Linked DNA regions of Homo sapiens. The protein of the gene in region 1 interacts with the protein of each later gene in a biochemical or structural test. Each region holds a gene or a part of one and is shown in the gene's direction. Other genes may lie near its edges.

The links.
Region 2: the proteins of FCRL3 (region 1) and ZAP70 form a complex in vitro, tested with the Homo sapiens proteins (one study listed by BioGRID).
Region 3: the proteins of FCRL3 (region 1) and SYK form a complex in vitro, tested with the Homo sapiens proteins (one study listed by BioGRID).

What each region holds. Positions count from the first base shown.
Region 1 is NC_000001.11:157,697,717-157,705,034, reverse strand, and holds the start of FCRL3 (Fc receptor-like protein 3 isoform 1 precursor), read left to right. Parts: upstream 1-4,265; 5' UTR 4,266-4,373; intron 4,374-4,449; 5' UTR 4,450-4,545; coding exon 4,546-4,576; intron 4,577-5,322; coding exon 5,323-5,343; intron 5,344-6,405; coding exon 6,406-6,651; intron 6,652-7,115; coding exon 7,116-7,318. UniProt on the Homo sapiens protein: Promotes TLR9-induced B-cell proliferation, activation and survival but inhibits antibody production and suppresses plasma cell differentiation. Enhances activation of NF-kappa-B and MAPK signaling pathways in TLR9 stimulated B-cells.
Region 2 is NC_000002.12:97,716,546-97,723,654, forward strand, and holds part of ZAP70 (tyrosine-protein kinase ZAP-70), read left to right. Parts: intron 1-7,109. UniProt on the Homo sapiens protein: Tyrosine kinase that plays an essential role in regulation of the adaptive immune response. Regulates motility, adhesion and cytokine expression of mature T-cells, as well as thymocyte development.
Region 3 is NC_000009.12:90,804,798-90,811,906, forward strand, and holds part of SYK (tyrosine-protein kinase SYK), read left to right. Parts: intron 1-7,109. UniProt on the Homo sapiens protein: Non-receptor tyrosine kinase which mediates signal transduction downstream of a variety of transmembrane receptors including classical immunoreceptors like the B-cell receptor (BCR).

The sequences.
Region 1 (7,318 bases):
TCTCTCAAGTGAGCAGACCAACCTCTGCTTGATATGGAATTGTACTGGCCTAAGAAGACTGTCTCCTAGGGAATATTTTCACCTTGTACTTACATTTAGTTCAGTTAGAAAATATAACTGACCAGGTGTGTTTCCTCACACCTGGAGCCCCAGCACTTTGGGAGGCAGAGGTGGGTGGATTGTTTGAGTCTAGGAGTTCAGGACCAGTCTGGGGAGCACAGCCCCATCTGTATATGAAAGAATTAAAAAATTAAGCCACCTACAATAACTATGTAATCATGTCAGTAATTGTTTAAATGTTTTCCACCCTTGAGCCAAGAGAATGCCACATGAATTCAAGAGTAATCCATCCAGTTTGCTGCTTGGACCTGAAAGCAGGGTGAGATTTGGGGTGACTGAGACATGGGAAGCTTTTCTAGGCTTCATTCTAGCAATTTAAAACTAGATTCTCATTGGTGTTTTGTAGCATACAAGGAATCTTGGAGCCAAAAATATTATTCCAGTCACCAGTGCCTAAAAATGCTTTAGAGATTTCTATTTTTGCCCCTCCCTCCCCCCAAAAAAAACAAAACAAAAGACTATCTGCTTCAGCTATGACTACCTAGAAAATGTGACTGTGCCTACTGTGGGCCTCTGTTGAACCATCTTGCAGCCCCCAAAGTTCTGTTGCCAGGCAGCACTTGTGTCCTTCCAAGCACTTACTGCCCATACGTAAGCCCTTGCCTTGTCTGTCCCTGCTTACAAGGGCTTCGCAGCAATCTTGAAGGCCCTCACAAGTTTCTTGTGCCTTTTGCTTATTGACATTCATGGGTACAGTCCTGCCTCTATAGAAACAACCACTGACCTATGAACAAAGCCACCACAAGTCGTGTCACAAAACCATATGCCCTAAGACTGCAAGCATCTTGCCCAGGCTCAGTAGTTAAGTATAAAAGGTGGCTCAGAATAGGCCTCTACAATCTGGAAAATGCCCGTCTCTCTTACTAAACAAATCCCAAGGCTGAGAATGACAGGATCTCTTCCCACCAAAAGCCTCTCCTTGTAAATATATAGCTCTCATACATTTGTTCTTTTGTTTTTAGTTCTTTTACATCTAAACCCATGCCCCAATTGTTTGTGTCTCTGAAAATTTGCTCTGGAACTTTAGACTCCCTCACTCCCTCCCCACTTAAATCTCCACACAGGGGAAGGCGTATACTTGTTCATAAACCCTTCTGCCAGTAGAGTTGCATCCAGGGGGAAGAGCATGGAGTTAAGTTTAGCATGGGGCCAGGTGCGGTGGCTCATGCCTGTAATCCCTGCACTTTGGGAGGCCGAGTGGGTGGATCATGAGGTCAGGAGATCGAGACCATCCTGGCCAGCATGGTGAAACCCAGTATCTACTAAGAATACAAAAATTAGCTGGGCGTGGTGGCACGTGCCTATAGTCCCAGCTACTCGGGAGGCTGAGGCACCAGAATCGCTTGAATCCAGGATGCAGAGTTTGCAGTGAGCCGAGATTGTGCCACTGCACTCCAGCCTGGGCAACAAAGTGAGACTCTTTCTCAAAAAATTATAGTAATAATAATAATAAGTTTATCATGACTCAATTATTCTTCCCAAATTTACTGATCACATAAGGCACGTCACTTCTTCCAGGATGGAGTGAGTTAAGGAGCAGAAGGAGGAACAGGAGTAGGAGTTGCATGCACATGGAAGAAAATAGATGTCCCCCCAACACAACCATTCATTAATATATTCAGGCAAATGAAAAGTTATTCTGTTCAATTAGATTTGGCGTATTTAGCAAATAAAAATATGGGACTCCTAGTTACATTTGTATTTCAGATAAACAGTGACTACTTTTTAAATGCAATTATATCCTGATATGGCTCCATGTCTCCACCCAAATCTCATCTTGAACTGTACTCCCATAACTCCCATGTGTTGTGGGAGGGACCCAGTGAGAAATAATTGAATCCTGGGGACAGTTTTCTCCATACTGTTCTTCTGGTAGTGAGTAAATCTCACGAGATCTGATGGTTTGATAAGGGGAAACCCATTTCGCTTGGCTCTCATTCTCTCTTTGCCTGCTGCCATTCATGTAAGATGTGACTTGCTCCTCCTTGCCTTCTGCCATGATTGTGAGGCCTCCCCAGCCATGTGGAACTGTAAGTCCAATAAACCTCTTTATTTTGTAAATTGCCCAGTCTTGTTACGTCTTTATCAGCAGCATGAAAACGAACTCATACATATCCCAAGTATTGTATGGAACATAATTATAGTAAAAATTATTTGTTTTTTATTTGAAATACAAATTTAAATGAGACCCTTGCATTTTATCTGGCAATCCTCTACTGAGTGTTAGGCACTGTGCTAGGTGCTAGAATAATGTGAATATGACATAGTTCCTGTCTTCAGAGAGAGACGTAGAAAAATGTAACATTTTTGGCTACAGATGAGCAATTAAATTCAAAATACTCTTTTCTGAGCATATCTTTCCAACCACAGGAAACAATACTTCAGAGTCATCAACAACATCGTCACCTTTGAGCATGAAGTATATTTGAGGTTTATTCATATTTTGAATTAGTCTGAAATGACACACTGAATCTCGAAGCTATCCATATCCCACTGAACCTTCCTTTTGTTGATGAGCATGCTGTCCTCAGAGAAATAAAAAATAAGCCCTAACCGCTCCCTTCCCTAAAGATACTTAGATCATTGAGGAATACCATCAAAGGGACAGGATGTTTCAGTTCACTGTGATCGGTTCTGGAGTGAAGGAAATCCAAGTGTTATTGATGCACATGAGAGGAACACCCAGCCCAAATGTGGGAGGTCAGAGAATACCTCTCAGTAGATGTGGCACCATACTCTACAATTACAAGTTTACAAAGACCCTGTAGTGTGGATTAACTGGGTATAGTTTAAATAAATAATTTAATTTAATTTAAATAAATTGATATAACCAATATATCTTCTCCAGAATATTGGAGAAATCTCTAACCAGGAATGACTAAGCACACATTGAAACACATCCAATCCTCTTCTATTGTCATCCTGTTCCTTACTGTTTGTTGGTCGTTCATTTGGCAAGTCCTTATTGACAAATTGGTATGTGACAAGTGCTCTGTTAGGCATTGAAACAAAATGAAGAACAAACCAGGCTTGTTCCCAAACCTTGTAATACTATCTAATGAGAAAAATAGGCATTATACAATCACATAAACATATAGAGAATGATAAAATTTGGTGACTTCCATGGGAGAAAGAACATAATAATATTTGTTAAAAAAGAGGACCCTCTTTCCATTACCTGCCAAGGTTGGGCACCCTGAGGATGGGACATTTGATCTGAGATCATCTCCCATTTCTAATGTAAAGGTATCTGAATGATGACAACTTTATCCTGGTAGGTAGATTCCCAAGAATGGCTTACCTCTAAGTCTAAAACACGCCTTCCTAACAGAAGTTATATCACCTTCAAAGGGGCAAGAATTGACTCTTGGGAAGATGAAAAAAACTAATTTTTTAATGTATCAAACACAGCTATACATGCAGCACATAAACACATACATAGTATATTTGTGGTATTAAATTTTCATGGAAAAAGGGGGTGGCTAAAAACAAAATTGTCTAAAAAAGATCCTTAGGGGAGCAATAACGAAAAAATGGTTGAGAAACACTGGTTCAGAGTTTTTATTCAATAGTCCCTCAAATAATACTTACTAAAGGAATGCTTTCAAGAAAGAACAGTTAGAGGTGCGGGGGATATAAGGGGTAAGAAAAGGGGCCCTTAAATGTTAGTGGGAAAGAAGACACGAAAGCAAACAAGGAAATAGAGAAAATAATTGCAAATTGTTATAAACACTGTGAAAAAAACACAAAGGACCTGAAACAAAATAATGGGGTGGAACCTCTTTGATTGCAAAGCCCTTTCTGAGAAGGGCTTTGGCTTTAAAAACGGTGGTACGCTTGCTGATTTATCTCCTAATTTGCAGATCTGGGTGAGATTACGGGAAGTCCTTGATCTGTACATTTGTATTATTTTCCTGTTCAGAAGCCTCATAACAACTTATGTGAAAGTCAAAAAGGCATATGCTTGACACCTTGACTGTGTGATTCACACCACGCTCATTAAGCTTGCCTACATTAGGAGCTGCATGCAGAACCAAAGGCTGTGTGAAGACAAGGTAGTGAAGGGGTTTCCCATATGAAAAATACAGAAAGAATTATTTGAATACTAGCAAATACACAACTTGATATTTCTAGAGAACCCAGGCACAGTCTTGGAGACATTACTCCTGAGAGACTGCAGCTGATGGAAGATGAGCCCCAACTTCTAAAAATGTATCACTACCGGGATTGAGATACAAACAGCATTTAGGAAGGTAGCCACATTCACATTTTCAGAGCCCAAAGCAAAATATGACACTAAGCTCTTCTTCCCTTTTCTGATTCTTGCAGGTCTCATCTGAGTAGCAGCTTCCTGCCCTCCTTCTTGGAGATAAGTCGGGCTTTTGGTGAGACAGACTTTCCCAACCCTCTGCCCGGCCGGTGCCCATGCTTCTGTGGCTGCTGCTGCTGATCCTGAGTGAGTAGATGGGCTATAATGGGGCCACGGCCTCAGTTCCTAAAGGTGACCAGGGAAAAACTCAAGGAGCTTCTATCTCTGCTTCTACTTGGGGTTCAGAGACAGATAGCAAGGGATGGGAAGTGAGCAGAGCTGGGTTCCCTGGACAACCAAGAGGCTCCAAATGCAACCATCAGAGCAAGCCAGATATCCTGACCTTGGTTTCTCACCCACTGCTTTTCTCACCTCATAGGAAACTTGGATTTTTCCTTCTGCCAAACCACAACTCTATATCCCACCCTCCCTCTTAAGCCTCAGACTAAATAATTTTTCAGATGAGCAGTTACTTCTAAAAACCTAGGCACGTGAAGGAAGGTTTACTGAGAAACATCACTGTTTTCTAGAAGTTTTAAGCCAAAATTTAATCAGAGATTGAAAAAGTGAGGGGAACAATAGGAGCCCAAGGAACGAAAGGAGGATAAACCATTTCTGTAAGTCCTTGTCTGCCTCTGCACTCAGAGAAGAGAAGGAGAGAATAAAGTGTGCCGTGGCCAAGTAAATAATAGCAGAGATGAGGTCAGGCCTTGGACATAAGCCATCACGTTTGTAAAATACATTATATGACATTTTCTTTGTTGTTTAGGGGCTCTGGATGATATAAAAAGGGAGCAAAGAAATGATAAGGAAAAACAAAAGAAGTGGTTGTGGTTAGGTTGTTAGAAAATGTTTCGGAGAGTGTCTGATTGTCATTTTCTGCTCCCTCACAGCTCCTGGAAGAGAACAATCAGGTAAGTTTCTCCTTCTCTCTGCCCCTCTGGTCTCTGGATATTGGTCCCCTCAGCCCACACAGCCTGCCCTAACCCTTGCAGGCACGCATCCCATCAGCAATGCTAATGCTCTGGGGTCACATCTGCTACTATATTGGGTGAACAGAGCCTCCTCCGACTTTTTCAGTCTCTAGGTTTTTTTTTTTTTTTCTCCCTACATTACCGGTATTCCTCAGACTACAGGAAGGAAACACTTGCAGAGCAAAGGACAGAGGCAAGAGGCTGATGATGAAGGAATCTCATATGTGATCTCCATATTCTCTAGTACATCTCCCTCTGAATGTCCAAGCTAGTGCTGCTATCAAAGGACATAGAAATAGATCCCATCCACGGAGGAAGATGCTACAGCAGAATCCTTATAAATCTCCAAAAAGAGCTCATGCCACTGCCACACCTCACTTCCATGCCTGTCAGTCAGTTGCAATTCCATACACAAGTCTGACTTCTCAGGCAACCCATCCTCCTCCATTTAAATTCTTTATATCCCTCCATTGTTTACTGTGTCCAACTTAAATGGAGAGTAAAGTTGCCTTCCCCATAGACTTTCAAAGCTAAGAGAGATATAAAAGTAATACAAGTGAGAAAATCTTATTCATTTTAAGTGTTAACAAGTAGGAAGTAATTTTCTGGAGTCTAGAAACTACTTCTGAGGTATATACATCCCAGGTTCACCTTTATCTGGACAGAAATGTATAGGACAAGAGAATTTCAGGATCAGCCACATTCTGAGGCCTTCGCAGTTTTTGCCCAATGGCAAATCACATCTCCTGAGCTTTTCTGAGGCTATGCCAGGAAACTGAGACCTCTCCCCTATAATACCCTTCTGCCCACCTCCAGGAAATGGATGAGGAAGAACAGATTCTTTCCCAGGCATTTCCCTAGGTTATTTCTGCTCAATTTTCCACCCTGGTCCTGACTGGAAATTAGTCCAGGAAAACTCCTGACTGTAGGTTGGGCTCCCCATGTGCTGTGCCCACCTCCCATTGACCTTCCCCTGCCTTCATCTTTCTATTTCCTGTTTAGGGGTGGCCCCAAAAGCTGTACTTCTCCTCAATCCTCCATGGTCCACAGCCTTCAAAGGAGAAAAAGTGGCTCTCATATGCAGCAGCATATCACATTCCCTAGCCCAGGGAGACACATATTGGTATCACGATGAGAAGTTGTTGAAAATAAAACATGACAAGATCCAAATTACAGAGCCTGGAAATTACCAATGTAAGACCCGAGGATCCTCCCTCAGTGATGCCGTGCATGTGGAATTTTCACCTGGTGAGGAATGGAAGGGGAGTGTCTAAAGTCAAGCCACCAGGCAGAATGCCTGAGGGCCGGGTTAATGCAGGGATCCTAGGCAGAGTTGTAAGCAGACATGGGGATTGATGCACTGACCCCAGTGGGGAAAATAAAGAGATAGGGCAGCAGCATGATGCTGGATTGTCTATCCATCTACCTCCAAAGAATTGTGGGTGACCCAGGGGCCATCAGGCAAAAAGGGGTTCAAGTCTGGGATTCCTCTTTTGTGAAAAGACATGTGAAGATTTCTCAAGAACATTTTCTGGGAATTGGTTCACCCTTGTAGGGCAAGGAAGAATCAGGTATTTGGGGCCACATGGCAATGTGGGTGGGGGCCATTTGCAGGTGTGTATAGAACTGTGGCTCTTGCCTCATGGGTGGAAATGAAAGTGAAGGCAGAAACAGCAGGGGATAACCTGAGTGTGCTCCTGTGCTCTTTGCAGACTGGCTGATCCTGCAGGCTTTACATCCTGTCTTTGAAGGAGACAATGTCATTCTGAGATGTCAGGGGAAAGACAACAAAAACACTCATCAAAAGGTTTACTACAAGGATGGAAAACAGCTTCCTAATAGTTATAATTTAGAGAAGATCACAGTGAATTCAGTCTCCAGGGATAATAGCAAATATCATTGTACTGCTTATAGG
Region 2 (7,109 bases), on another chromosome or scaffold:
AGGAGGTGACTTAGGCAGAGACCTGAATAAAGTGGAAGGTGTTGGAGGAAGAGTCTCCAGGCAGAGGGAACAGACAGTACAAAGGCCCTGAGGCTGCACCATGCCTGGTTTGTCCGAGGGACCTGAACGAATAACATGAGGAGGCCCGTGTGGCTGGAGGGGAGTGAGTGGCGGGGGGTGGTGATGGGCATCATGAAGGGCCTTGGGGGCCACCCTGAGGACTTGCATTTTCACCCCGAGTGAGGTGGGAGCCTAGAGGGCTTCAAGCAGAGAAGAGGATGTGATGGCATGACGGGGGCCAGCAAGTCTCACCCCAGGGAGTCCCTGCAGCCCCAGTGCTGGACACCTTCACTGGCCCTGCTTTCCGGAGGAGGTCTGGCGAGCTTCACTCGCTGCTGAGGCTGCACTGTGACCATGTGGTGGGTCCACGATTCCATGATTTGAATCCAATCCCTGCAGTCAGGAAAGACATATGAAGGAGGAGCCTGCAGCCATGGCTAACTGCGGCTGTGTGGCTCATGGCGTCACCAAGCTGGCGTGTGCTGACGACCAGTGCCTATGCTGCCTCTGTTGGTGGGCACAGGCGGCCCGAGCACAGCTGGGGGATTAAGGAGCAGGGAACATGGCTTCAGAGGGACTTAGGGTCTCAGGTGAGGACTAGGGGTTCAGAGAGAGAGAGCCAGGAGCTGGAGTGGGAACAGGGTGGTGGGGGGGCAGTAGGAGGAGGTGGGGCGGTGAGGGGCTGGGGCCCTGCTCCTGCAGAGCCTTGGATGGGGACATGTCAAGCCTCTGGCTGGGGGGACATGCGGAGCCTCTGGCTGGGGAGACATGCGGAGCCTCTGGCTGGGGGGACATGCGGAGCCTCTGAGCCTCTGGCTGGGGTGACATGTGGAGCCTCTGGCTGGGGGGACACGAGGAGCCTCTGAGCCTCTGGCTGGGGGGACACGTGGAGCCTCTGGCTGGGGGGACATGTGGAGCTTGTGCTGCTCCTGCCCGCTCCCACCAGGTCCAGTGGCTTTGGTGTGATACCTCTGCTCTGACGATGGGCATGTAATGGGGGCTTCTGATGCCCAGGGAATGTTCTGTGAAACAGTAGACCTTCAAGGCTTTGCTGAATAGGTGTGGGAATTAAGTGACGCTGAAAGAGGTCCTTCCATGTGGTCTTCTCGGAGCCTTTAATGTGCTTTTCACAGCATTTGAAACTGTATTTGACCCCTTGACTCTTTTTTCCTTTGAAGCATGTTTGGGGAATCTGATCTCTCTGGAACAGCTGTAATCTAGCACTGCCTTTACCCAGGGAGGCTGGGTGAATGGTGGGATTCCAGGCAGGTCCTTCTGACCAGGCTCCAAGGCTTCCTCCCATCATCCTCCCAGGGCCTGGGCTGTGAGTGTGGGGCAGGTGCCCCGTGGCTGCTCTGCTGTGATCTCTGTGCTGTGATCCAGGGGCTGTAAGTTCTGGGAAGGCCAAACTAGGATCTCTGAACTGTGAGCTCAAGAGGAAGCTGACTGGGGTCAGCCTAGGGAGAACCATAGGCCAGGCTTGGGGAATGAACAGGCTCACTGGGGACTGAGGGACGCGGCTCCTAACCCAAGTCCTGTCCGTCGGGATGGCCCAGGCAGGTCGAGGGCTGGGGTGGGTCTCATGGTGGGTGTGTCTTCTGGGAGGGCCACGAGTCTGCAGGGACACAGCTGAGAACAGAAACATTTGATCCCCTGCCTGGGGTCTGGGGTCACCCCGGGGAGCTCTAGATCGGTGCAGCTCACTGACAGCAGACACTCCGGCTAGCCGCTGCGTGGCAAATGCTCCCACCTCTTGCCCCCGGACTTTTCATCTCTGCCACCTCTGCCCACCTTCTCTGGCCTCCCCAGCATCTCTGGCCATGGGGTCCCTGGGAACTTGGGCCCCATGTTTTACTAGTGAGGACAGTCCAGAAAGGCCCCAGGGGTGGAAGAGGAGGCGCCCACCACCCGACCTGTGTGTGTGGGGTGGTGCTTGTGATTACCGTTGTCCTTGTGGGCAGTGGGACAGGGAAGCTGGGACGCAGCCGAGATGCACAGGAAGAGAGCCTGCCTCTGGGACTCCTTAGCCTCGGGTCATGGATGGCAGCCCTGGGCTGGGCACTGAGCCTCCCTCATCTCCTCTTCTGCCCTAACCCACTTCTAGCTACCCAGGCTGCACCTGCGGCCACGTGGGGAGGAGCTTCTCAAACTGTGTTGGCGACAGTTTCCTGCCACAGCTTCCTGCCCCAGAGACCAGCTTTGCTACTCTGCACCCATGGTCCTTGGACAAGCCCTCAGTTTTCTGCCTCATCCTGCATCCTCATGCTTTATGGGAGTGGCTCCATGAGTCTTCAAGGATGGGCTGGCTGGGTTGGAGAAGATGGAGGGGAGAGGGAAGGGTGCACTAGGTGGAGGGTGCTGTGTGGATGAAAGTATGAACATCCATTTGAAGGAAGGCAAGTAGCACAGCTCAGCTGGGGCAGAGGGCTGGGGAGATCCAATGCAGTAGCCATTAGGGTCTTGAGCAAGGGAGGCCTTGGGGAAGAATTGCCAAGGAGCAACTTGCAGACTCTGGGGCTCAGCTCTGTGGAAATAGACTGTGAGGTTCAGCCAGCCACAGGCAGCATGAGCATGCCATCTGGATCTTAGGTTGGTTGTATTAATGGAAACAGTTGGTGGAGATCAAAGGAGATGATGCCAGCACCAACCGACCTCAGTCGGGCGAGAGATCTGGGCTCTGGGAGAGGTGGGTGTGGCAGCATGTACAGCTACTGACAGGATGACCCAAGTAAGGGGACGGGGGTGGGGGAAGGAGAGTGAGCAGGATGGTCAGAGGGCAGAGGCAAGCCAGGGAGTTTGTGAAGGACCAGAGAGGTCTGTGGGGCTCAAGCAGGAGGGAGGAGTCATAGGTGTCGGCCATTCAGGGGGCCCAGGATTGAGGAGGTCACAGAGTGCTTGTCTGGTGCCTACAGACTGCCAGGGGTGCTATCAGTGCTGGAGAACAGCCTGGGGGGGGGGCGCAGACCAGGTCTGGCTGAGAGGCTGGGAGTCAAGGACATAGGGACAGGAGTGTAGACAGCCCTTAATCACTTTTCCTATTTTCATTAGCATTTTTAGTGTCCATTGTGTCTGTATCTTCCAGTTCCTTTCCCCCTTAATTAAAAATTTGGGGTATAATTTACATGCAATAAAATTTTTATATCATTTTAGTGAAAAATTCTGAGATTTGACAAATGCATACAGCCCAGAGACTACCACCACATCAATCAAGATACAGACTATTCCCCCAAATTCCGTCCTGCCCTCTGTCGTCACTCCTTCTCCGGCCCCCAGCACCCAGCAACCTCTGGTGCGTTTTCCGTCCCTATAGTTGTGTGTGGAATCACACAATTCGTAGCCCTTGGAACCTGGTTTCTTTCATCCAGCCTGAGGCCTTTGCGATGCGTTTGCGGAACTGCGTGTCTCCGTATGCTGTTCCACTTACCGCGGAGTAGAATTCCACTGTAGGCATGTCCCACAGTGTATCTTATTCATCTGTTGGGAAACATGTAAGTTATTCCTAATTTTTGGCAACTGTGGCTAGTACGGCTATAAATGTTCCTGTGTAGGTTTTTGTGTGAATGTAAATTTCCATTTCTTTAGAGTGAATACCTAGGAGCCTTCATGGGTTTTTTTGTTTTGTTTTGTTTTGTTTTGTTTTGAGATGGAGTTTTGCTCTGTTGCCCAGGCTGGAGTGAAGTGGTGCGATCTCGGCTCACTGCAACTTCCACCTCCTGGGTTCAAGCGATTCTCCTGCCTCAGCCTCCTGAGGAGCTGGGACTACAGGCGCCCACCACCACGCCCGACTAATTTTTTTGTATTTTTAATAGAGACGGGGTTTCACCATGTTCGCCAGGCTAGTCTCAAACTCCTGACTTTAGGTGATCCGCCTGCCTCGGCCTCCCAAAGTGTGGGCCACCGGGCCCAGCCATTAATTTTTGTATCTTAATGGAGACGGGGTTTCACCATGTTGGCCAGGCTGGTCTCAGACTGCTGGCCCCATGTGATCCACCCGCCTTGATCTCCCAAAGTGCTGGGATTACAAGCGTGAGCCACTTCGCCCAGCCGCTTCATGACTTTTTAAAAACACTCTTGTGGAATGGTGACCTTTTTCTCCAGGTGGAGCCACAAATGCAGTCCCTTATGAATCTCTGGAACACCCACCTGTCTGTAACTGTTGGGACATCCAGGACCCCCCTCAAGCTTGGCCCTCCCAACCTCACTGTCACAATCAATCGGGTTACAGTGCAGATCCTGGCCCCTCCTCTAGCTACTCTGACCCAGACTTCACCTGATTCCCATTCCAGTACCTTCCTTTCAGCTCCAGAGCCCATCTCTGGACACCCAGGGCAGAGGGAGCTTTCACAAAAGCATTCATTTTACCCCTTGGTTGCATTTGCATAACTAAGAAGGGCACTCAAAGTCAATTCTCCAATGCAAACTTATGCCTGAGTAGCCTTGCTGGGCCTATGTTAGTAGAGAAACAACTCAGAACCGCTATGGAGAGGTATTTTTTCCCAACATTCTATGAAAACTTACAAATATGCAGAAAATAGAAAGAATTAACTGTACACCAATAACTCACCTGCTAGATTCTCCAGTTTATGATTTGCTATAATTGCTTTATCACATACAGTTGATCAACACTGCGGAGTTCTTATTTGTGAGTTTGCCTACTTGTTAAATTTATCTGAAACCCTAAAACCAACATGGCACTTTTGTGGTCATTCTCAGACATACAGAGTGGCAAAAATATGAATCACTCGATACACATTTTCCCACCGAGGCTGCACAAGGCAAACACTCTCATGCTGCAGATAAGTGTCTTTTTCATGTTCTTTTTTTTTGAGACAGAGTCTCACTCTGTCGCCCAGGCTGGAGTGCAATGGCGTGACCTCAGCTCACTGCAAGCTCTGCCTCCTGGGTTCATGTCATTCTTCTGCCTTGGCCTCCCGAGTAGCTGGGACTACAGGCGCCCGCCACCATGGCTGGCTGATTTTTTTTTTTTTTTTTTTTTTTTTGTATTTTTAGTAGAGACAGGGTTTCACTGTGTTAGCCAGGATGGTCTTGGTCTCCTGACCTTGTGATCCACCCGCCTCGGCCTCCCATAATGCTGGATTAGAGGCGTGAGCCACCGCAGCCGGCCAATCTTTTTCATGTTCTATTTGGTGGTGCCACATATTTTGTTTTTTTATTTTATCTTTTTTTTTTTTGAGATTGCTGTCTCGCACTGTCGCCCCAGCTGGAGTGCAGTGGCAGTGGCGCGATCTCAGCTCACTGCAACCTCCGCCTCCCAGGTTCAAGCAATTCTGCTTCAGCCTCCCGAGTAGCTGGAATTACAGGCACCTGCCACCATGCCCGGCTAATTTTTTGTATTTTTAGTAGAGACGGGGTTTCACTGTGTTGGCCAAGATGGTCTCGAATGCCTGACCTTGTGATCCACCTGCCTTGGCCTCCCAAAGTGCTGGGATTACAGGCGTGAGCCACCACGCTCGGCCTATTTTATCTTTTTAAAGACAGAGTTTCGCGCTTGTTGCCCAGGCTGGAGTGCAGTGGCCTGATCTCGGCTCAATGGAATCTCCGCCTCTTGGGTTCACGAGGTTCTCCTGCCTCAGCCTCCCAAGTAGCTGGGATTACAGGTGCCCGCCACCACCTCTGGCTAATTTTTTGTATTTATGGTGGAGACGGGGTTTCACCATGTTAGCCAGGCTGGTCTCGAACTGCTGGTCTCAAGTGATCCACCCGCCTTGGCCTCCCAAAGTGCTGGATGACAGGCATGAGCCGTTGCACTCGGCCTCACATATTTTGAATGTTTGTGCTTTTTGTTGGTGATTTCAGTGGTTGACATGGCCCCCAACCATAGTGCTGAAATGCTATCTAGCATTCCTAAGGGCAAGAATGCTGTATGTGCCTTATGGAGAAAACATGTCAGATAAGCTTATAGTTATAGTGCTGTTGGCTAAGAGTTCAATGTTAGTGAATCAACCATGTCTATTAAATAAGGTGCCTTTAAACAGAAACTCACAAAAAAACAAGGTTATGTCTTGATCAGTTGATGAAAATGTAAACAGTTTCCTAGGAACCTAACTCTGTATTTCCCCTAGGAGGGATAGTTCTATATTGCTAATTCAGTGTTTTCGTTGACTTTATAGAACTGCAGAGAATGACAGAAATCAACTGTGTCTATCTGGCTGTCTATCCTTTTATCCATCCCTCTCGCTCTGTTCGTCCATCGGTCAGTGTTATTTTTGGGATGCTCTCAAATTAGATTACAGTCCTCAGTTCCCATCACTCCTAAACATTTCTGCAAGCAGATCGTTACCTAGGGTTCAATATTTTATGTTTCTTTTTTAATTGAGGGAGGGCAAATACAATGGAATGAACACATCTTAAGTGTACATTCTCTTAGTTTTCGGAAAATCAGACACTTGCATAACCCAAGCCCTGTGAATATACAGGACGTCACCATCACCCCAGAAAGTTGAGGGCAGGCAATTTTAAGTTATCTGCCTTACCAGATATCCATCTGTCTAAATAGCCTTAATTCCTCCTCCCCTCAATCACACGTTTTGTTTAATAGCTGTATCAGAGTTCACTTTGAGATTAAACCCTAATGCATTTAACCAGTCCCCTAGGGATGGATATTCCAATTAGCGTATGCTCTGTAGAAACTTGCCAAGGAAGGCAGAGGGCAGGGCGAGGGGTGCCTGCTAAGGCCGAGGGGAAAGGGTCAGCGGAAGGGACAAGGGAGGCTGAGGGGTAGGGCCCTTGGGTGAGCAAAGCTGGGTGCGGCCTCAGGGCCTCTGCGCATGCAGTCCTCTCTGCCTGATGCGCTGTCCCGCGCGCTTTTTGAAAAGTTGGCTCCTCCTCCTTCAGCTCTCCCTTCAAATGCTAGCTCCTTGGAGAAGGTGACCATCCTAGCTAGAGCCACCTCTTCTCTCTCTTAATGTCACTCCACTTATTTCCTTTGTAATGCTGACCTCAATCTGTAATTATTATTTTTGTTTCTTTCTCAGTTTATCTCACGGCTCTCCCTCCTTAGAGTGTTGCCTTCGGGAGGACGGGGTGGG
Region 3 (7,109 bases), on another chromosome or scaffold:
AAAAAGGGTTTTCTACTGAGGGATTGTGGGAAGATGTTTTAAGAACTAGTCTGATTGGATTTTAGGAAAGTTCATTCATTTTGATATGATGTTATCAGGGACATTTTCTATTTGCTTATAATTTTATCTGACCAATATTAGCTTGTATCAATTTGAGGTTTTTTTTTCCTTTATGAATCAATTGTGCAAGGTTTGCCCTACATCTCTTAAAAGGTGGTTAAACTGGAATCTTAAAGACAGTTGAATTTAGCCAAGACCAAAGATATGCAAAGAAAGAATATTTTGTTTATGTTACAGTACATTTAATAAATCCAAATGGCTCCCTTGATTCTTTTCTTTCTGGGACACCACGTATTGATTTCTGGCAGCTGGCCAAAGGCAGATGGTGGTGGAGCAAGCGAGGACAGTTAAGAATGTTGATGATTACTGGATTACTGAGGAGTACTGTGAGCTTTCTGGTCCTCTGCTCAGAGGTGTCTAGCTCTGAAACTGGGATCCTGGCTCTGAGCTGGAGAGGCGCTTCCAGTTACTGCTGTCCTGGAGCGCTGGAAGGGAGCATAAGTGTGAGGAGACAGTGGGCTTTTAGCCTGGGATGCAGATGAGAGATGTCTTGACCTGAGTGAAAACCTTGCAGGCAAGCTGCAGGTCTACCGAGCAGGGTGAGGGAGGCTCTCGACCTGGATACTGTGAACTAGGGAGAGAAAGTAAATTCAACAGAAGGAGGGCCCAGGGCAGAGATTTAGGAATATCCACAGTTTAAATATTGCTTTACTTAAGTATACTCTGCCTGACTATAAGTAGCATTTGAATGTTCAACATATGACCTTTCATTTCTCCCCTCCATTGGTTTGTCTTAACTGATAAATCTTTATTTTCCCATGGTCAACCTGGTAGTTTATTAATATTACATCTATCAGTTCCTGTTGAGTTGACATGAAAATGTTTTGGTGTGACCTAAGTTAATTTCTCTTTTTGTTTAATTTTAATTTGTAATGAGTTCCTCTTTTCATTCTGCCCATCCTTTGGTACTGCTTTGAGTTATGTCCTCTAGAATTCTCACTATTTCCTTATGATTGGCATATTTTCAAAGTTTTTTGGTGTACTAATTTTAAACAGTGTTTGTTGACACTGAGAATTCAGGACTTTGGAGTTTTAGACCACCATCACCTTCTACTCCTTCTCACACCATCCCAGGATAATTATTCTCTCATTTGAGATTAAGAAGTTATTTGGTTTATTTTATTATGGTTATATAAATATAGTTTACTGCTAAAGCAAGGTATATCATTCCATTTTCTATCTCGTACCCCTTTTTGCTCTTCCTGGGGTAAACCCTTGCTTTGTTTTTGTGTTTTCTTAGTTTGCACTGTGCCTATTATCATTTCCTTCCCAACTTTCTGACATAAAGATGAAAGCCCTATTGACACAATTTTCTACAGTGTCAGATATACCAAGTAATCTCACGGTTCCATTTTTCTTTCTTTTTTTCTAGAACCCTCCATCTTCTTCTTGTCTAACAGTTGCTCTTCAGTCTTGCTATACATACAGTAATACCTGAAGAATGTTTGGAGGATATTTGGTGTGGGACTTTTCTTTTTTTTTTTTCTTTTTCTTTTTTGTAGAGATGGGCTCTCACTATATTGCCCAGGCTAGTCTCAAACTCCTGGGCCCAAGCAATCCTCTTGCCTCAGCCTCCCAAAGTGCTGGGATTATAGGCATGATCCACTGTGCCCAGCCCTATGGGGAATATTTGTTGACTAAATATGTTTTATGTAAATTGCTTATCATACTCTTTGTTGTAACATCTGTGGCATTAATATGCCTCTTGTTAACACTCACCTACATTTTACCTGTTGTAAATCCACTGTCATAATTATTGAAAATATTTCTCCAGAGCTTTTTAATTCTATGGTTATTTATTTATTGTAGTATAGAACTTTTATGATTTCTTCCATCAGGGTGCATTCTGAATCATGCTTAGTGAGAGATGGTTTTTAACTCCACTTTAACAGTTAGCATCTATGTTTTACATCAGTGTCAATGTCACTTTTGTATTATATACGACACCAACATTTTATTATCTGAGTGATGAGAATGTTTATTTTTGTGGAAATGGAGATCTCATGAGACTTTAAGCAGATTGCTGGCCTTCTCCTCGATTTCCTTGATTGATTCCTGAAGTGGAACTGCAGTGCTAAGTGGAATTCCCTGGGAAGCTTGCTCAAGTAAGTAAGCATGAGAAATGCTGAATGAAATAAAGTGCAGCAAGCAGGGATAAATATCATGGGCATCTTCAGAGCCTTTGTGCAGGTAACATGCACAGAGATTCTCTGAGAGAGTCAGTCTCAGCCAGTGGTCCTACACTTCCATGACCCTGCAGTGCGTTTGTTCTTAGAGTGGCTTTCAGGGCTGGCTCTGCCACAGCCTCTTTGGGAAACCATGCATGACCTCTTGCTGCTCCTTACCAAGCTCCTTAGGCTTTGCTTGGTAGAGGCAGAATGTTGTGGTTGTTTTCATCTTAAATGCTAACAATATATGAATTATGTGGTGGATACACTGCCTCAAAGTGACATTTATCGAATATTTTTGTAGCTACGGGTTGAGAGTAAGGGTCTGAGGCCCCACTGGGTTCAAGTCCCCCTTCTTTATTTGTAAGCTCTTCTTTTGTAAATGGAGCAGTCACAGGGGGCTTCACTCTGATACCTAATGGAGACCGTGCCTGCAGTGCTCGGTACCTGGTATGTGGTTAAAACTGACATAACTGTCAGAGCCTCTCCCAGGCGGGCTGACTCTGGGAATCTGCCCTGCAGTCTTGGAGGGAAGGCACGTCCAGATAGGTTTGATGAGCAACTACAATTGCCAAAGTTAGTTTCTCTGACCTCCAAGATGGGAGAACTTTCTAATATTTTCTTTTAGGAAAGTTGTCCATTGCATAACTGATACACGAGTACATATCCTTTAGTACAGGATTCAGATACAGCGAGCAACAGAAAAGCCCTTCTTAACCTCCACCCTCAGTCCCAGCCCTGCCCCCAGTCCCACTGTTGGGGAGCAGTTGGAGCTCTAACCTCTCTTCTTTCGTCCTGTGCATTCATGTGTGCATGTGTGCACGTCTTCAGAAGATATAATGGTGGGCTGTGTATGTCTTCTTAATACCTTTATCACTCTGGAACTTTCTTTTTATTAATATGTTGGGGTGCGGGGAGGTCTCCATATTCAGTGATTATTGTAATTTTTATGACAGTCCAGAATAGGCATGTCGATTTTTTTTAATTTTTGATATTATAAACAGTGCTGCAATGAATGCACTTTTTCTTTTCATTCTTTCCCTCTCCTTTGCCATTTGCACTGTGTTTTCATGAAACCATCAGGTTAATCTTTATCTCAAGGAAGCCCTTCATCCCTGTCCATCCTGTTCTTCAGTCCATCCACTTAGTTTTCCTATGATTATTTTAGCAAGCAGGTGGTTAATTTCCAAGGAATGTAGTTACTTCTTTGGGATTTTTTTAAGTGATGTATTAGTTTTCTGTGTATTTTATTACTTGTTTGAGTGCACCATTACCCCCGTCTCCCGGGGTATCAGTTCATCTGCTTGCATGCTTGGTGCCTCTCTCTCCTGCTGTCAGCTTTCCTGATGTGCTGGGTATTTCCACGTGTGTGTTGGTTTTTTTTTTTTTTTAGGTACCCTAGGCATTAGTCTTTTAAGGCTGCATTCTTGCAGCCTGTCCCACATGAGATAGGAGGAGGGCAAGACCTGGATGTGCACAGGGCAGGATGGGCCCATAACTGGTCTGTGTGGTGTGTGGGTGGCAGGAACTCCCTGTTCTTTGTGGGTATGGCCATGCCTTCCCTATTCAAACGAAGCCACACACCTGTCTTTTCCTGCGAGGCGTCTTCTGCTGCTTTCTTGGAGCTGGGGAGCATCTACTCTTCCCTTGTCCTCCCGCTCCTCCCTGTTCCTCCCTCAGGTCTCTGTCGCTTCTAAGGCACTCCACCCTTGGTCTTCTCCCACCTTGCACCCCCCACACTGCTGCCTGCCTGCACAGGGGGACTGTGATTGCCCCCTTCAGTGTGAGCCTGACCTGCTTCATGCCTTTCAAGGAGAGCATTCATTGCCAAGCTACTCATGGAACATCTCCTCAGATCCTCAGCGTGCTATGACTTCATTTTCTGTAATACTGTTTTTCATGTTTCTTCCCCTTCTCTGCATTTATAGCTGTGCATATGCTTGAGGTGGAAGGCCACCACTTCCTTTTGGTTAACAACACCAATCAGCTGATGGTCATGGCTACGTGAAGGAACTCACAGTGAGGGCTCAGGAAGAGCCTGGCTAGAGCAGGCTGCATCGCAGGCCTTGGCGTTAGGTTCCCCAAATCACTGCTGGTGATCTTGTAGCTCTGTCATGAAGTCTGTCCTGCTTATTAGGATACCGAGGGTCCAAATTCATAGATTCTTAGAAGCCTGTTTAAATATGCAGAGTATCTAATTCAACCCGATTAGAAACGGGCTCAGAAAGGTGAAGGGATTTGTCCAACCACTGAGTGATGCTGCTGGGATTAGAACTCTCAAAACTAGGTGTTTCTAATCCAGAACCAGAATCCCTATCCACTACTCTAATAAGGCGTAAAAGAGGATCTGCTGTCCTGCCTAATTGGTGGGCAGGTTTGGAGTCCTGTCAGCAGCTCAGGAAAGCCTGGAGAGGCAGAGGGAGGACACAGGCTCAGTGTCAGACATGCCAATTTTACTCATCACCAATGGTTACACAAAACTTGTTTTGATCTTTGTGGCTTTTGCATTGAGAAGTTAAGCATATACAATAGGAATTAGACACAATCCCAAACCAATGAGAGACTCAAGTGAGAAGAGCTGAAGCTTTTATGCATGCCTTCCTTCCATAGAGATAAATTTACTATCCAGAGTGAACTAGAGCCTCGTGGAAAGTGAGTGCCGAGCCCCTAGCTGTGAGTGTCTCTGTCCTTCCCACATCAGACCTCCATGTCTGTGGCTGTCCCCCTACGGGGCAGAACTGCTGCTCTCTGCTTGTGTTGCTGTCGTGAGGGTTGGGAGTGGACAGGTGTGGACAGATCTCAGACCCGTTTCCCTCCTGTTATGGAAATGTTTGTGAGGCAGGTGGGACTTCAATGATTTGGTCAAGGAAAGGCAGCTTGGCAGCTGGGGAGAAGGGCTCAGGCTAGAAAGGCAAGCGTTTGTGAGGGATGATTTCCCCAAAGAAGCCAGCAGTGTGTAAGGTATTCCCCGGAGCTTGTTTCTTCTCAGAAGACTCTGGAAGCTGTGTCAGTGTCTGTTATGGAGGAATGGAGTATCAGTCCGATCAGGCTTTCATAACAAAGCACCACATACTGAACGGCTTGAACAGCCCAATGTGTCGCCTCCCAACTCTGAGCCAAAGAGACTGAGGTCAGGATGTCCCAGGGTGGCTCCTTCCAAGGGTTGGGTGGGACAATGTGCCCCCAGCATCTCCTTGGCTTGTGGGTGACCATCTCCAGCTCCACATGGCATGCTCCCTGTGTGCCTGTCTCTGGGTCCAGATCTCCTTTTCATGTAAGGACACCAGTCATGTTGGAGTAGGGCTCACCCTAAGGACTTCAATGGGGCGTAATCACTGCTGTAAAGACCCTGTCTTTAAATAAGGTCACACTCAGAGGGGTTAGGGAGTTAGGACATCAACATTTGAACTTGGGGGGACACAATTCAACCTGTAACAAATGTGTGAGTGAAGACTGGCACCTCCCCACGATGGCCTTTCTGTGATGCCATCAAGAGCACCAGGGAGCTCTCCAGATATGGAGATGGACAGATGTCTAAGGCCCCTGAAATGAGCCTGCTGTACAGATGATTCCAGAACTCTGTCAGTGTGAAGACCAAACACAATTAAGCACATTAAAATACTTACGGTAAAGTGTTTCTTTCACTTTAGATGTGCAAAAACTTAAAGAGAGAGAGACTTATGAGAAGACTCAGGGAAGAAATGTAAGATAAAGGTGTTAAGGGAGACAAACTCCACAAAATTGTAAAGTGAAGCTGCTGTGGGGAGTAGAGCCCAGACCCAGATAATATGCAGGCATGGGTCCAAGGGAGGCTTTGCACACCAGGCGGGGGAGGTGCAGGGCCATGGATGAATGGTCTTGGGAAAACGGCAAATCGTTTGGAAAAAAAAACAAAACTTTGCTCTTTATATCAAAATAAATTCCAAGCTGAACAAAGAATAAAAATATAGCATTGAAATAATGAAGCTATTAAAAGAAAACTTAGGTGAGTTTTAAAATAATTGTGAAGAGGCCTGTCTAAATGTGATAAAACATATGAATTTATATTCACACTCATCACAAGATTGATAAGCATGATTTCCTAAAATTTTAAGCAAATCCCCATAAAATGAAAAAATATACAAATAAGTGAAAAAAATGGTAAGATATATTTAATTTCAATACTTGTGGTAAAGCATCAATAGCTTTAATATGCAGCGAGTTTTTTCAAATCAATAAGAAAAAAGACACAGATGGGTGCTGACAGGGCCGTTTGGTAATATCTTTTAAAATTTAAAACACAAGTGCTTTCACTCAACAACTTCACTTTTAGGAACCTATCACACATATAAATTGACAAAAGTGGAGAAATATTCATTGCAACATTTTATTTTATAATAGCAAAAAAAAATCACTAAGGGAAGTACAGTTGATTCATATGTTGGAATCCTATGCAGTCTTCTAAAAAATGTGGAATTTATTTCATACACCAAATATAACAATGTCCAAGTTCTACTAGTGAAAAAGCAAGATGTAACATATCATTGTATTTGTTTAAAAAACTCATGCTGGGTTGGGTGCAATGACTCATGCCTGTAATTCCAGCACTTTGGGAAGCCAAGGTGGGTGGATTGCTTGAGCTCAGGAGTTTGAAGCCAGCCTGGGCAATATGGCAAAACCCCACCTCTATGACAAATACCAAAAAAAAAAACTAGCCTGGACTGGTGGTGTGCACCTGTAGTCCCAGCTACATGGGGGCGCTGAGGTGGGGGGATCACTTGAGTCCAAGAGGTCAAGGCTGCAGTGAGCTGAGATCATGCCACTGCACACCAGCCTGGGTGA